Linked DNA regions of Homo sapiens: all the other regions are linked to region 1. Evidence: fine-mapped expression QTL. A gene starts in region 1. Each other region holds a variant in brackets. All regions are shown on one strand. Distances are between the middles of the regions.

Region 1 (4,000 bases):
CCCTCTGTGAGTTGTGCCTCACTGGTGTTGAGTTTAGAATCATCTGGGCAACTATCATACCTTTTTGAAGTCGCACGTGCACTTGGGAGAATATAGATACTACATACAATTGGAAGAACTTTTTAGGAAATATGGTAGGTGAATATATTTTGGGGGTCATTTTAGATTTTTGGTTATTTACCAACATCATTGCATAAGACACAAAAACATATTTAAGTAGAGGGGGATAGTAATATTAAATCCATATATATGAATTTAAATATAATTTATGTTCAAAGGAAGACTTTAAAACAGATTCAAGCTAACATCTTGTTTTAAGCATTACAAAGGTATAATGTTGCTATTAATAATTCAGTAATGATGTTTAATCAGTAAAAATGGCCACATTTTATATAATTATATTCCTCGAGGTCTACTCATTCATTATGTAGAAACCACAGAGAAATTTTGCTCATACGTTTTATCATCCTGTATTTAATTCCAGACAAAAACCAGTGGTTGCAACTTGACCTTAACATTGCTAACATGTAGTATCTCTGCTTTATCTAGAATATTATTTTGTGGAAAGACAAAACTGATATATAACTGACTTTCTTAAAAATCTTCTGTTTTGAGGGGCAAAAATAGGGTTCAATTTCTAGATACTTTTAAATTATTTTTTATTTTAAATTCTAAAGTACATAATAGGTAACTAAAGAATCCAGAATTAAAGAGTCAATGAAGAAACAGCTGCTTTCTTAAAGAAAGGGTGTACCTCCCTCCAAAATTAAACTTTAGCTCAATCCATTATACTGTATCTACATTTTGCCTGGTCACAGATTCCACCACAGTGTAAAATTTTTCCTATCACCCTGTTGTTTCTTTAACTGCTGGTCTGATATTCCTGAGCGAGCTGTAAAATGTGCACTCTAGTAAAGTAGCTATCAAGTTCAAATTTATCTCCCGACACTTCACTCCAGAAAGGTGTAGTATTCACAGCACTGAAACACTGCCCTTGCCTGTAATCAGTTGAAAGAACTAAGCACAACGTTTCCTATTTAGAGGGCTGTGCAACAGCCTACAGAAACAGCTAGAGATTGCATAACGTTTCCAAAGTTTTTCCAGTACTATGTCACTTATGTGTTTGAATAGTTAAGATTTTGTAAAATGTATTTTCAGGAGTTGATAAGAGTTTGTGCACAAAGTTTCAGAAAACAGAAAACAAAAAGGCTCCCTCAGTATGCCTGAAGTTAAACTTTAAGCACTCTTGATTGCTCTGCTGTAGCTTAGTGGCAGAATCCCCAAATTAAGGATGAAGGGAGAAACTATTGTTCCTGACAGCCCTAGAGCCACCTGCGATGTAGCATTACTTACCTAAAGATGGGTCTTTGGAGATGTTTCTTCCTGATTGTGACATGGTCATCCATTTAAAGGTGAAGGTTTAACTTCTTCCTGGAAACCACTCCAGAAACTCCAGAGAGGAAATGTGGAAGCTTATCCTGATCTATTGTGCTGCAAGGAGCCCAGAAAGAAAAAGTAGTTTCCTCTTTCTCTTTTTGGGTGCTGGGAGAAAACTTCCCTGTTCTCTGCCAGCTGAGCAGTGTGTCCATAGAGGCCACATAAGACAGGCACGTTGGGGCACTCCCCCACAGAGCAGGGTGTGCAAAAACCACCAAGAGTCACGTTGATCCAGGCAAGAGAAGTGCACGGGACCCTCCGAAACAGAACAAAACAAACAGAAAACTTCCTACCCCAGTGTCATCCAGGTAGGAACTCCCTAAGTTATTGCAGCCATGAGAGCTCTCCTTCCACATGCTGGTCAAGCTCCGAAAGGCTAAGTCCCTCCCTGTCTTTAAAACAGACTGTTCTGAGGCTCAACTTTTTTTCTTCAAAATAAAAGTTGTACAGCTGGTTCAGCAGCCCCATGTGAGTACCCTCTGAAAGTTTGTTCTCTTAAAATAAGAACTGTATACAAATTAATGAAGAAAGATAGGCTCGGGTTGCATGGCTGGCTCTGCTTCAGATTATAATTATTTTACAATCTTGCTTGTATTCATGCTGGCTGAAGTGTGGAGACGACTCATCATTTTTAGCACTTATAATCTAATAACCTCCTCTTGGCTGAAGTTGAAGATGCCATATCAACTGATAGAAGCCCATGCGAAGCTGACCAGAGCTACAAAAGTTAGAAAAACAAAAATTGCTAATTTCTACTGGTGACATTATACCCAGATGTCTGTACCCAAATGTGGTTTCCAACTAAGAGGAAACATCTCTTGCAAAAAAGAGATGGAAACACACACACACATCCACATGCTTTTTTTTAACAAAAAGCCCCTCCAAAGTGCCTGGGAGCCTATGGTTTATATATTATGTGATGAAATTTGGATTTATAAAAGTAAAAGGAAAGAAAAGAAGGTATAAAAGAATTTGTGAACAGCTGAAAATAAATGATATTAAAAATTGTTTTCTTTTAGAAGACAGATTTACACTGCGGGAACTCTTATTCTAGCTCCAGATAAAGGGAATGCTCGTATTTTAATGTAACTTATTTTGGAGACCTTCCTGTATCTGAATCACTAACAAAGTTCCTATTCAGTCAATAATGTCATAAGATTCCAGGTCAGAGATTTGTAATAAACTAAATCATTTCAAAGCATGATTAGAATGTTTTTAATATATACATGTAATAAAAAGGGAAAAATGAGTAACGTGCATGCCTTTAGTTGAATGATCCATAAAAATAAAGATCAAATGTCACAAAGGAGGATACTATCTGTAGTTATTGGCACTCTCCAAATACTTCCAGGGAGAAAGATCACCTTTTTATTTTCCTCCCTGAGGAGAGATAAGGAAGGAGAAGAGAGTTATAAGGGAATCATGGATTTTATCGAGCCGTTCTAATCCAAACTAGGAAATGTAATCATTATGAGAGCATTGAACTAAAAATAAAATAAATGGGTTCTAGTCCTAGTTCTATTGCAAATATGCCGGGCCACTGTGGGCAAATTTCTTGACCTGTCTGAGACCATTTTCTTGTTTGTAAAATGAAATTATAATATTAATTGAATTCTATATTTCTTTCCAGCTTTAATGGTACTATCATGTTATTTCTAAATCTGATTCGCCTGCTTCTTGCAAAGAAACTGCCATAGAAGTTATGATGCCTGATACTTCAAAAACTACACACTTATTATGTACTGTTATAAATAAATAAGGAAGCTATAAATAAAAAGATGATTTTATATTATGTATAACATATTTATATAGATATTACATAGTTATGTAGTGACATCTATGTCACTGTTCTCTTTATGATCAATAAGTACCAATGATAAATTCACATGTGTGCTATACAGCAGTTAAATATACTGACCATGTATAAACAAACTTAGATACAGATCTTTGAAGCAGATGCTTTATTATTACCATATGCTTTGGCTTTCTTTGTATTTAGGAAAGCACATAAGAAATAACACATTGTACAGGTCTTCTGGGAGGGATTTTGCGTTTGTGGGTAGCATTCAATTTCTGTAGTCATGGTTTACCTATATTACCATTAATATAGCATAAATCTTCCTCCTGAGGGAAAATTCAAGAAAATAATAAGCCCATCAACTTTTAAAAATTAACTTTCATTTTGTCTTCTTTTGAATTGGAAATGTGAGACAATTTCTACATGAACACAATGGAGGGAACTCAACATAAATACTAATAAACATCTAGCCAAGGTACAGTTCAAACGGCAAGCAAGTATGAAATATAGCTTGAAGTCCAAAGGCTTGATTACCAGCTGAAGAATCTGAAAGTTGTTAATCATAGGAAATCCATAACATACTTCATTACCTTAGGTTTATATTCTTTTTTCTTTCTGTGATTAAGTTAGAAAGTTTAGATTCACTTTATGGAAAGCACTATATTTAAAACCAATCTGAGACCCTATAAAGCATTCAGATGATACCAGTAAATTAAATATTCACTGGGCACAAAGAAAAATATATATTTCTTAAATGTTTTTATT
Region 2 (4,000 bases), 280 kb before region 1:
AATACCATAAATGTTGATGCGTATTCTTTCCTACAAATGAGGAGAATGATAAATTTCAGTTAAAGACTAGTAAAAAGAAATCCCTCTCTAAGTATTCTGACCCTCTCTATATAACTCTGGATTAAAACTTGATCTAGTCTAACTTCATTTTTCAGGCAAGAAATAGGTCCAGAATAATCGGTTGACTTTCTACAATGCAGATCATAAATAGATAACCTGAAGTCAAGACGGTTGGCTTTTAATTCACTGGTACTTCAAGAAGACCAGTAACGTCACTTTTGAATTTCATCTTACTGAAAGGATTTGCAATGTCATATATATAGAAAGCTGCTCATTAGGAATGAATGCAAGTGGTCTGTTCAAAGAAATTGCATATAAACTTGTTTGTCAGCCAGGAAAAACAGTGAAAATAAAGGAACATCAATAATTCTGTTCAGTTCAAAGAGTTTTAGGTGTTCATCTCAACCAGTTTCAAAAGTTCAAATCTAACAAAATAATTTGTAAAATGATAGAAATTTTATGGGTTTGGTTTGTAAATAGAGTCTCAATTCTTCAAGGAGCAGGGAGGGGATAGTTGTTATAGGAGAGACAGACTTACCAAAACCAACAGAAATCCTCTAAATTTAGCTAATCTAGGCTTTTAGATTGCAATTTAAGCTCACTTTTACCATATTAGAATCATAATGTGTTAGACTCATGGTGCTGTGAATAAGACTTGCAGGGAATTACACCAAACACACTATCAAGTGGATATTAGAGACTTTTGTCCTCCAGTCAGGGTCTCACTAACTATCTGAGAAATAACCTGTTAGGATAAATTATTATACAATTGAAAATATACCAATAATAATCAATACTTTGTGAACACCAACTAGGTGGCAGACACTATTCTAAGTGCTTCACTCACCTCACTTCCCTGAATCCTCACAGCAAACTTATTATTATTATTTTTTGAGACAAAGTTTTGCTCTTGTTGTCCAGGCTGGAGTGCAATGGTGCAATCTCAGCCCATTGCAACCTCCGCTTCCTGGGTTCAAGCGATTCTCCTGCTTCAGCCTCTCAAGTAGCTGGGACTATAGGCATCTGCCACCACACCCAGCTAATTTTTTTGTTTTTTGTTTTTTTGCATTTTTCATAGACACAGGTTTCACCATTTTGGCCAAGCTGGTCTTGAACTCCTGACCTTCAGGTGATCCACCTGCCTTGGCCTCCCAAAGTGCTGGGATTACAGGTGTGAGCCACCACGCCCTGCCCCCCTCACAGCAATCTTATAAAGTAAGGTTGAACAATTGTGGAAGCTGAGACATAGCTTGAAAACTATCTGCCCAAAGTCTTAAAGCCAGCAAGGGGCTGGATCCTCTGACAAAGGACAACCAGAATCTTGGCCTCTAGTTTGACTGTTTCCCAAGCTACAATCATGAGTAACCTACCCTCACCAATTCTGCTGTATTCATATGCCACCTGTCCTCTCGCTTACCTAATATTTTTCTTTAAATAGACTTTAAATATACTCCTTTAAAAATTAGTTTTGTTCTCAATAGTAATTTTCCTACCACAGAAATAAATTTGTTGTTCTTTTTGTATTTTTCTAATACCTCAAATCCATAATTAAAAGATCATTTCTCATGTAGATATAAAAAACAAAATGATTTAATAGCTTATTTTGCACTCGTTATTTTTGACTTATCTAGCCCAACAATCCCTGCATGTAAGTGGGAAAATCATCATTATGATTCTCATTTTAGAGATGAGAAAGACATGATTAGAGGGGTAGCTGACTATTCCAACGCAAAATAGCCTAGGTGAATTTGGGAGACAGAATCACAAGCTATTCCTCAGAGCAATGCCCCAGTTAATTTTTTAAATTTAACAGCAATAATAAATGGTGTTTGAAAAATACCACAAAATTGGTTTGTGCAGTCTTTTCAACAGAAATATTAGCTCTGAGTAACACTGCATTCTTATTTTTTCATAAGAAGAATATTACCTTTGCTATGTATAATAGTATTTCCTTAGGCATATCTCTAGGTTGCTTCAGCTTTACTTTTAGACCATTTATATAGTTTATGTTGCAGATAACTAGAATAAATTGGTGATCAAAGATTAAAGTTACAGTCATTGGAAAAATGTAATGTAGGATAAATCAGATATTCTGATTTTAATTGGTGTTTTGGCATCCATATAATGTAGTTTGCCTTACATGCTGGGATAAAGAAATCTATTTTAATACCAGGGGAAATACTTTCCCTATTTTTTTCCT[CT/C]TTTTTTTTTTTTTTTTTTTTTTTTGAGATGGAGTCTCGCTCTTGTTGCCCAGGCTGGAGTGCAATGGCATCATCTTGGCTCACTGCAACCTCTGCCTCCCAGGTTCAAGTGATTCTCCTGCCTCACCCTCCCAAGTAGCTGGGATTACAGGTACCTGCCACCAGGCCCAGCTAATTTTTGTATTTTTAGTAGAGACGGGGTTTCGCCATGTTGGCCAGGCTGGTCTTGAACTCCTGACCTCAGGTGATCCACCCGCCTCAGCCTCCCAAAGTGCTGGGATTACAGGTGTGAGCCACTGTGCCCAGCCTATTTTTTTCCTCTTAATTTTAATGCATTTGGAGAAGAAGCAGTTGTATGTGTTCGTTTACTTTGCAGTATGCGTGAAGGCAACAGTAAGAGAAGACAGGACTGCACACTAGGCAGAAGAAAAAGAAGGCTGTGAAAACAAAATTCCACTTAATTCCAAAATGTGCTAGCTCCAACCCTGTAAAATTAGAGCAAGTAATACCTTAAAGTGTTACATAAGACACAAATCAAGAAATAGGTAAATTATGTATTGGTTCATTAAAGAAAAACAGAAACATCTGATTTTGAGGAAAATACAACAATTTACTTTAGCAAGCTTTAGACTTACACCCAATGCATATGTGCTAGGCATCTAGATATGTAGAGAGTTTTACAGGTGATCTACGGAAAATGAAAAATTTATATGTATATTCATCTGCAAATCAGTGAAATTATACTCAACTTGGGGAAGCTAATACCTTGTCAGATAGCCAGAAATCTTAGTGTTTAAGTTACACTGAAATAGTTTAACAATGTGGGAGGTAGTTCAGCTGGCTCCTTGAAAGAGTTTTCTAAAATTGGGTCTGAAGGTTGTATATGTTTTGTTGGCACACAGGTAGGAGTATGCTGTTAGTGAAGGGATGAGGAGGTACGGTGGAGCCTGAGCAAAGGCAGAGGGTTGAAAAGAAAAATGATATGCCAGGAAAGAAATGAAGCCCAGCTGAGAAAACTACTGTGAGCTCCTACCCACTGGTTGAAGCAATTATTTCTCCATCAGAGTGTCATTCTTTTAGAGGAAGGCTCTGACACCTATTAAAATGTTATTATTCCTAGAAGGGAACTTTGTGACTGAATCGCAGATCTTCTTAAAAGAAAGCAGGCTCTGAGAGCAGGGAGATGATAAGAATGCACAGGCATTGATTGAAGGTAGAGAAGTTGGGGGTGGCAATGGAGAGAGAAGCTCTGGAGTGGTGAAGTTAAGACCATTCAAATCACACTTTATCTCTTGTAAAGAGTAGCAGGAATCAGCCATGGAAATGATCAGATTTGGCTCGTAGAGGCAAGTTGATGTGAAAGGCAACATGGGGCTGCTCTGATTTCTCAATTAGGATGAAAAATGGGGTGAAAATTGAGTCTGATGTTGGAGATACTGAAGGGTAGGAGGTTTGGAGGCAGGTAAGGGATGAGAAATTACTTAATGGGTATAATGTACACTATTCGGGTGATGGCTGCACTTGAGTGTGAGAGAAATGCCAAAAATTCACATATTCTTTATCTTTATAAATAGGACAAATTAACTGTAGAATATTGATTTTAACTATCTACCTAAGTGAGTTTCAAAAGCTAAAACTTGGAAAAAATAATCTGTAAAATGATGCAAACATTTTGGCTTTCCTTTAAATAATCTGAATAAACTATTCTGGTTGATTGAGTTTTCTTTGTAAAGCTGGAT
Region 3 (4,000 bases), 100 kb before region 1:
ACCACCAGGCTAGATATTATTTTAATTTCTCTTCCAGCTTCACCATTCTAGGATTCTAGGAAATGATGTTTTACTCTGGATTTAAAATTTCAAGGTAATTACCTTTAGAAGGACAGTGTGGTGTTCTGTCCCTAATCGTTGGAAATAAGAGCTCCAAAGTCACGTTGCACTTTGAATTCCTTCTCTCCTACTTACAAGTTGTGTGATCTTGGGCAAATTATATTTTCTTTCTAAACCTCTGTCTTCTCTTTTATAAAAAGAGATAAGAGAAGAATCACCAGGATTGAATTCAATATTGTATGAAAATTTCTTAATATGGTGTTGGGCACATAGTAAGCCACAGAATCAACTCGAGACTTCATAGATTCCAGACTATTAGAAGCTGATATGGTTTGGCTTTGTCCCTACCCAAATCTCATCTCGAATTGTAGCTCCCATAATCCCCACGTGTTGTGGGAGGGACCCAGTGGGAGGTAATTGAATCATGGAAGTGGGTTTTTCCTGTACTCTTCTCATGATAATGAATATGTCTCAAGAGATCTGATGGTTTTATAAAGGGCAGTTCCCCTGCACATGCCCTCTTGCCTGCCGCCATGTAAGATGTGCCTTTGCTCCTCTTTTACCTCTGCCAAGCCATGTGGAACTGTGAGTCCATTAAACCTCTTTTTCTTTATAAATTACCCAGTCTCAGAAGTTTCTTCATAGCAGTATGAAAATAAACTAACACAGAAGCTGAATTCACTTCTCATGAGGCAGACTCTGTTAGACAATTAAAAAGTTATGTGATTCACCAATAGTTTTTATTTTTATCTTGATGGGCTTTTTACTTAAGACACTCACCATTTTTATAAAGTTTAGTAAAAGAATTTGTAGAACACTCCAGTGATACAGATAGGTGAAACTATATTCTTTTTATTTTAGAAAATAAATGATAAAGTAGATACGTTAAATGATTTCGCAAAAATAAATAAATAACTAGGCTGTAGACCCAGAAATAAAATCAGAGAGTATATTTCTTGAAAATATCTTAATTACATGTTAGTTGATTGTTAAACTATGCTTAGTTCCTACAAAATGAGTTCTTATCTGAATGTTTTAGAATACTCAATATTCTGAGTGTTATACATAATATAACTATTCTACATCTTGTAAGACTCATAAAAAGTTGTCTGCTGACTTATTACAAAATAAAACAAATGTTATTTTAACCTTATGAGCTTGAACAAATAAATCTAAAATAAATGGCTTTATAGAAGCCTTTGAACTTATAAACCAATTAAAGCAATGGAAAACAACTACATATATATAAAGGACAGAAAAACATACCCGGTTTATCTCTTCTTTGTGACTAATAATTGTGGCTTATTGTCAATGCTGTTCGATATATTTTGTAAATTTATGGAAATGAAAACAGACAAACAAAAAACTCCCATTTCTTCTCTCCAAATAAGAGATTAGCTATTTCTATCAATGGGACTCAGTCACAAGAGTTCTAAAGAGAAGTTCTTCATTAGAGAAGTAATAACTATAATAAGGAATGTTTTCTCTAAGAGGGAAGAGAGAGACTATTAGGAAGTTGAACATAGGCTGGAGACAGACAAGAAAAAAATGAATTTTTAAGAAACATCTCTACCCCTGCCCTAATGTTTACCAGTTAAGAGCCAAAAGTTTCTTTCAACTTCTTGGAGGCAGGGGAAATTCTTTGGAAGATTTAAGTGCCTGTCGGAGGAGCGCTGAAAAAATCCATCTTCAGCATTAGCACTGCTTGGAGGGTCCTTGTCTGGAGAGGTAGGTCTGGCTATCGTCAATGAATAGGGCAGGAAGCCCCCAGGAACACAAGGAGGATAGTAACGCAAGTATTACATCTCACGAACTCTGAGGCACCCTGTTTCTGCCAGAGGTGTGAGACTGTACCAGCTTCCAAGGGATTTCCACCAGAAGCCCCACACCCTGGTAGAGCAGACCAGCGTGTCAGTGTGTTGCCACACCATCCAAGGCACAACTGTAGGGCCTGACATTGCAGTAGGGCTGTGCAGCCTTTTCAGGCACAGCATAGATTTTCTCAGTGGGCCAGGGAATCAATCAGAGACTC[G/A]CTACACCAGTAGGGAAGACATTTCTGCTTTAAGAACCATAGGAGAGTGAAAGACAGACCCATAAATATAGGTGGTGCTATTAATTTTTACTGTTTATTTCCTAGCAAGATGCCTGGAAAAATTATTCATTACAAGCTTATATGCTTCATTTCATTTGAATCTCAATATATTACTATAAGGGAGATAGGAAAAGAAGTATTATTTCAGTTTCGTTGAGGAGGGGATAATACTAACGGTTCTATATCTCAGTGATTAGAGAACAGGGAGGAGAATCTATTCAACCATAATTCCCTCACAAGAATCTTGACTTCAACATCTAATCCACTAAAATTTCCATTTTGGGAACTTGCATACAAGATAATCGATGTATACAAATTTAGGCATATTTTAAAATTCTAATTTTGTTAAATATGAAAATGATGTGCATAAAATCATCTTAATGTCTAAGTTTAGGGGATTCCAAAACATAGTTACTTAGTTGTCATAATTACCTGTATATGAGAAAATTAAAAACAGATGAAAATCAGAGACCTTCTATGTAATCTTAAATATTTAGACTTTCCACCTAATGCCAAGCATACTCTATGTTAGAGGTCAAATCTGTTATGTTACTTTTTCTTGAGGTTTCATATTTTGCCCCAAACCTACAAGAAAATAAATCACTGTTCTGTGGGTACATTGGGTAGCACACGCTCATCCCACGTCTGTACTCCTTTGTGATGTCTCTTGGAACTTGTTCTTTTTTTGTTCCCCCAGCATAGACGGTTTGTCCCTTCCATCCTCCATTCACTGTACAGTTGACTGCCCTCAATGCAAAACCAAGTCAGCTGAAGTTAGTCACTCACAAAAAAATCAGTGCTTCAGTCTTGAGCAATAAGTTCAGGAAACATTTAAGTGTTTATTACGTGCCAGTTGCTTTCACAAAGGTTATCACAACAAATTCTGAGGTAGACACTATTACTCCTGCAGCTCAGAAAGGTTCAATGATTTGCTCAGGGTCATGGAACTAGTTATTTCTGGGATTCAGTCCAAGATTTTGACTTTGAATTCACTGCCCTTTTTCCTATCCTATTAACACACATCAGGGCTAAAATCCCAGGGTACAAACATACATTTGACTAGTCAACAGGAGCAAAAATGGTAATAAATTCAGGCCATGCTGAGCAATTAAAAATAGGAAGATATAAGTCTCAAGTATGAGAGTAATGGAAAATATAGACTTGTTGGTTAGTAATTAATTTAAAGTTACATAGATACTTTGTCAACCTATAACACTAAATGTGACTAAAAAGCATATGTGGCTTTACCATACAACATATACAAAAAGTAAAAATGAATCAAAGATCTAACATAAAAGCTAAAACTATAAAAAATCATAGAAGGAAACATAAGGGAAAAGCTCTATGATACCAGATTTGGCAACAATTATTGGATATGACACCAAAAACATGGGTAATGAAACAAAACAATGGAAAAAAATTGAGTTCATTATAATTAAAAACTTGTACATCAAAGGAGACTATCAACAGAATAAAAAAGCAACTCAAAGAATTGGAGAAAATATTTGTAAATCACATGTTTAATAAGAGATTAAGATCCAGAATACATAAAGAACTCCTGCAACTTAACAACACCAAAATAAAAACCCAGCTGGGCGTGCTGCCTCACGTCTGTAATCCCAGTAGTTTGGGAGGCCTAGGCAGGTGGATTGCCTGAGCTCAGGTGTTCGTAACCAGCTTGGGCAACATGGTGAAACCCCGTCTCTACTAAAATACAAAAAAATTAGCCTGGCATGGTGGTGTGCATCTGTATTCTCAGCTACTCAGGAGGCTGAAGCAGGAGAATTGCTTGAACCCAGGAGGCAGAGATTGCAGTGAGTTGAGATCACGCCACTGCACTCCAACCTG
Region 4 (4,000 bases), 170 kb after region 1:
CCCACAGACTCTTCTGAGGCACACATGAGACATACCTTCCCCCAGGGAGGCTGAAGACTTAGGTGAGAATTTGCAGAGTCTTAAAAGTGCCAGCCACATCGCAAGGGGAGAAGGAAAGCCAGTGAAATTTGAGCTACTGATCCTGTTACCAAAGTGGCGATACTCTTCAATAATTGGTTTATACTTTAAATACTTTTATATCTTTAACATAATATTCACTATGTGCAGGTAACTCCATTGAAAAACAAATAAGGCTATCAAAGTTGAGGGCCATCAGTAACTATGAGGCTACTGTATAATATGAACTGTCTGCATGAATAATAAACTGGATGGATGGATGGATGGATGGATGGATGGATGGATGGGAAAAATGCAAGAATTTGGGCAAGGACAAAGAGAGTAAGGCAAGAATCAACAGCTACAATGAAAGCTGTAGAGTAACCAGAAAGCTGATTTTTAAAAAATAGAAGCAATGAGGTGTGAAGAATAGAACTTTCATATAAAGAATCTAAACACACTGCCAGGCGCAATGGCTCATACCTGTAATCCTAGCACTTTGGGAGGCTGAGGCAGGTGAATCTGTAGAGCCCAGGAATTTGAGTCCAGCCTGGGCAACATGGCAAACCCCGTCTCTATTAAAAATACAAAAATTAGGTGGGCACAGTGTTGAATGCCTGCAGTCCCAGCTGCTCAAGAGGCTGAGGTGGGAAGATCACCTGAGCCTGGAGGTTGAGGCTGAGGTGAGCCATGATCATGCCACTGCATTCCAGCCTGGGCAACAGAGTGAGACCCCATCTCAAAAATTAAAAAAAAAAAATTTTTTTTTTAAATCTAAACACATTATCTAAAAATGATTTGGAGTTTCAGACTTAAGAGCAATTATGAGAAATGAATTTGACATCAAAATCTTAGAATTGCTGAGGAATTTTAATTCATGGAGACAATGGAATGTACCAGGATAGGTATATGACTTATTCTGGAAGATACAGACTATGTGGTTGCTATGCCTCACTAAGGGGAAATATATCTGAATGGTGCATGTGAAGGAGCCATCAATAGGTTCAAAGGCAAGGCTGGAGGAAACAGAGAAGCCAGCGCTTGCAGGCTATTGCAGAGGAAGAGAGGAACTGGTGGGCCAGGACAGGGCATGAGAGCTGAGGGGTCCTGGGAGGGTCCTGAGAGGTGTGGGGGAAAGGGAGTAAAGAAAGTAAAGAATACAGGGGTAGAGAGACCGTTTCCACAATACCCACCTCGTAATTTTGCCCAAAGCCCACTTCTAAATTAAGAAGTGTACTTTTTCACATGTAAATAGAAATCTCTAGATGCTAACTTTATTTTGAGTAATATAAGACATACTTTGAATTATAAACTTTTCAGGCATTGTCAAGTCCCCAGGGAAAATGACGCAACCTTCAATATCTTCCCTACAACAACTGCGGATGGTGAAGCTCAGAAACAATCCTTCCACAAATAGAGATAACATAGTTTCTTTTGCATTTATCTTTGGTCATTCAGCAGTTTGGAGACTTCTCAAAAGGCACTGAGGCGTTAAGAAAATCCTCTTTTCACCAAATTGCTGTTCTCCCATGAAACTTTTCTGTTCTTTTAGAACACTTTAAAATTTCCTTGTTTCAGCATGTTAAAGAAATGTGAAATTTAAGCGACTAAGTCAGCCTACTGGGTCACCAATGCAAAATTACTGCAATCTGTTTCTCAGTTTATCAGGCTCCCTAAAGACCATTAAGTCCTATGCACAGCCATAACAGCTTCATCTTCAAATGCTCAGAAACATAGCCCAGAAATTAAAATGGGAGTTTAATTTATTCCTTCTTCTGTTCAACCCTTAATCTTTTTTCCAGTGCTTCTGCAAGCTGATTTACTTTAAATTGCAATTATCCTAAGAAGAAAATTGTAAAGGAAAAAGAACAAGGTTCTCAACCGGGCACAGTGGATCACGCCTGTAATTCCAGCATATTGGGAGGCCGAGGCGGAGGGATCACCTAAGGCCAGGAGTTCAAGACCAGCCTGGCCAACATGGGGAAACCCTGTCTCTACTAAAAATCCAAAAATTAGCTAGGCATGGTGGCGGGCACCTGTAATCCCAGATACTTGGGAGGCTGAGGCATGAGAATCACTTGAATCTGGGAGGCGGAGGTTGCAGTGAGCTGCAACGCACTCCAGCCTGCGTGATGGAGCGCAACTCTGTCT[C/CA]AAAAAAAAAAAAAACAAAAACAAGGATCTTTGCCATTAATTCTGCTTTCACGCTCTCCCTTTCTCATTTCCCATGTTCTATACTCCCTATCAAGCTCTGCCTTTCGAGTGTGGGGGCAGGGCAGAGTAGGGGAATCCTCACCCTACCAAAGCCTCTGATGACTCCTTCTTCCACTAAGCTCCTGCACCACTGATTATTTTAACCATTCACTTTATACTGAGCATGTGTATTACAGTTACTATTACTGCGTAACAAATAACCACAAAACTTTGTGGCTTAAAACCACTTTACTATGCTCCTGGATTCTGTAGGTCAAGAATTAAGATAGCACACAGCTTATCTGTGCTCCACAGTGCCTGGACTTCTGCAGGGAATTACTCATGGGATGGAGGCTGGAGTTCTCCAGACAGCACAACCGCTGCCATCACGCTGGCTGCAGCAGAGAAACACGGCTGGGGCTTCATGCTCCATGGAGCCAGTGAGAGCTCTGCCCCTTCTGAGTTGGGGCAGGAGCTCCGCAGGTGTCGCTGCAACTACCCAAACCATGGCTGCAGACTCATGCATCCTGCACTCTTGGGAGCCCAGGAAGGCCCCCCCTACCCTCACAGGCTCAGAAGTGACTGCTCCCACTGCCTGGCTTTTCCCTGCTATGGGTGCCTGCTCCCATGACTGGTGGTGGATCCTGGCTCTGCCTCAGTGGGACTTGAGCTGGGGCTGTCAACTAAAGCAGCTGCTTGAGCTCTCCATGTGGCCTGGGCTCCCTTATACCATGGTGGCCTTAGGGTAGTCTTTTTCTTTCCTGGACGCTCATCTGCAAAAGCAAGACAGAAGCTACAATGCCTTTTATGACCCAGCCTCCATAGCTATGCAGGCATTTCCTCTCCATCTACTGGTTACAAGTGAATCATTAAATCCGATCAGATTTAAAAGAAAGGACATACATCCCACCTCTCAATGGAGTGCCAGAGAACTTGTGGATATGTTTTAAATCCACCACAATGTGCTTCTCTGTGTTATTATTTCTTATGTATGTTCTGGCTTTTAAGCTTTATATTCTTTAAACTGATAAAATTTTCAGAAATAACAAAAATACAGAATGCCCCCACTAGATTTGAATTTCAGATGAATAGGACATCCTTTTACTATTAAAAAAAATTATTTGTTGCCTATCTGAAACTTAATTTTAACTGGATGGCCCATCTTTTATCAGACAAGCCAACCCAAGCACATATCCCTGTGCTATAGGCATCAGAGAGGTTTAATTATGCCAGTTATTGACCCAAATGTAATATCTGATTAGATTGCTAAATAATTACATGTACCAGATCTCTAGACTCTACTCCCTCCATTGCAATCATAAAAGTAAAATCCCATATTCCACCTCCAGATCTTCAGGTTGCTACTTCAACATGACAGGAAAGTCCCTTGAAGCCTGGTCTAGGAGCACAATCCTACTCTACTCCCAGGAGAAAAATAAATCCTTAAGTAAAAATTTTCAGGTTTTAGAGTTTCCATCATTGTTAATTAGATTTGAACACTCTACAGCAAAGTTCTCTTAGGTTTTGAAAATAAAATTGGGTAGTTTTATAAGAGCTGATTATTAAAAAAATAAGTAATGCTATTTCAAAATGCTCCTGCTTTTTTTGTCATCATCAACGCATTTCTCTTTCTGTACCATCTGTTGCAGAATATTCATTTTCTGAAAGGTTTTTTTCAGGTTGCTTGCTACACAATTTTCAACAACAGAGGAGCCATAGAGAGTACTCAACATTATTGTAAGTTGTTTAGAAA

Direction of the effects. Positions count from the first base shown, and alleles are read on the strand shown. Sizes are in standard deviations (SD) of each study's normalised expression.
For the expression in skeletal muscle of the gene that starts at base 1,812 in region 1, C is the low allele of the variant in region 2 and CT is the other (moderate effect, 0.66 SD a copy in FUSION).
With allele A in place of G in region 3, the expression in thyroid of the gene that starts at base 1,812 in region 1 is lower (moderate effect, 0.53 SD a copy in GTEx).
In carriers of allele C in region 4, the expression in substantia nigra of the gene that starts at base 1,812 in region 1 tends to be lower than with CA alone (large effect, 1.2 SD a copy in Braineac2).

What was found. PIP is the estimated chance that this variant, and not a neighbour inherited with it, causes the effect. A credible set is the group of variants that fine-mapping cannot tell apart.
Region 2: its variant is the best candidate, but not a certain one, in a credible set for the expression of PDE1A in skeletal muscle (FUSION, PIP 0.71).
Region 3: its variant is the best candidate, but not a certain one, in a credible set for the expression of PDE1A in thyroid (GTEx, PIP 0.74).
Region 4: its variant is the best candidate, but not a certain one, in a credible set for the expression of PDE1A in substantia nigra (Braineac2, PIP 0.67).

What each region holds. Positions count from the first base shown.
Region 1 is chr2:182,425,225-182,429,224 of GRCh38, forward strand. PDE1A (phosphodiesterase 1A) reads right to left here and starts at 1,812. Exons shown (of 15, transcript NM_001363871.4): 1 at 1,354-1,812. The coding sequence starts at 1,406.
Region 2 is chr2:182,150,152-182,154,151 of GRCh38, forward strand. All of the region lies in intron 13 of PDE1A (phosphodiesterase 1A), which reads right to left. Among named protein-coding and RNA genes, the nearest start is that of PPP1R1C, 170 kb to the left of the region's middle. The variant CT/C (reference allele first, on the strand shown) is at 2,261.
Region 3 is chr2:182,321,895-182,325,894 of GRCh38, forward strand. The region is part of intron 1 of PDE1A (phosphodiesterase 1A); the gene reads right to left. Among named protein-coding and RNA genes, the nearest start is that of PDE1A, 100 kb to the right of the region's middle. The variant G/A (reference allele first, on the strand shown) is at 2,093.
Region 4 is chr2:182,596,354-182,600,353 of GRCh38, forward strand. It overlaps a transcript of PDE1A not described here. Among named protein-coding and RNA genes, the nearest start is that of DNAJC10, 120 kb to the right of the region's middle. The variant C/CA (reference allele first, on the strand shown) is at 2,209.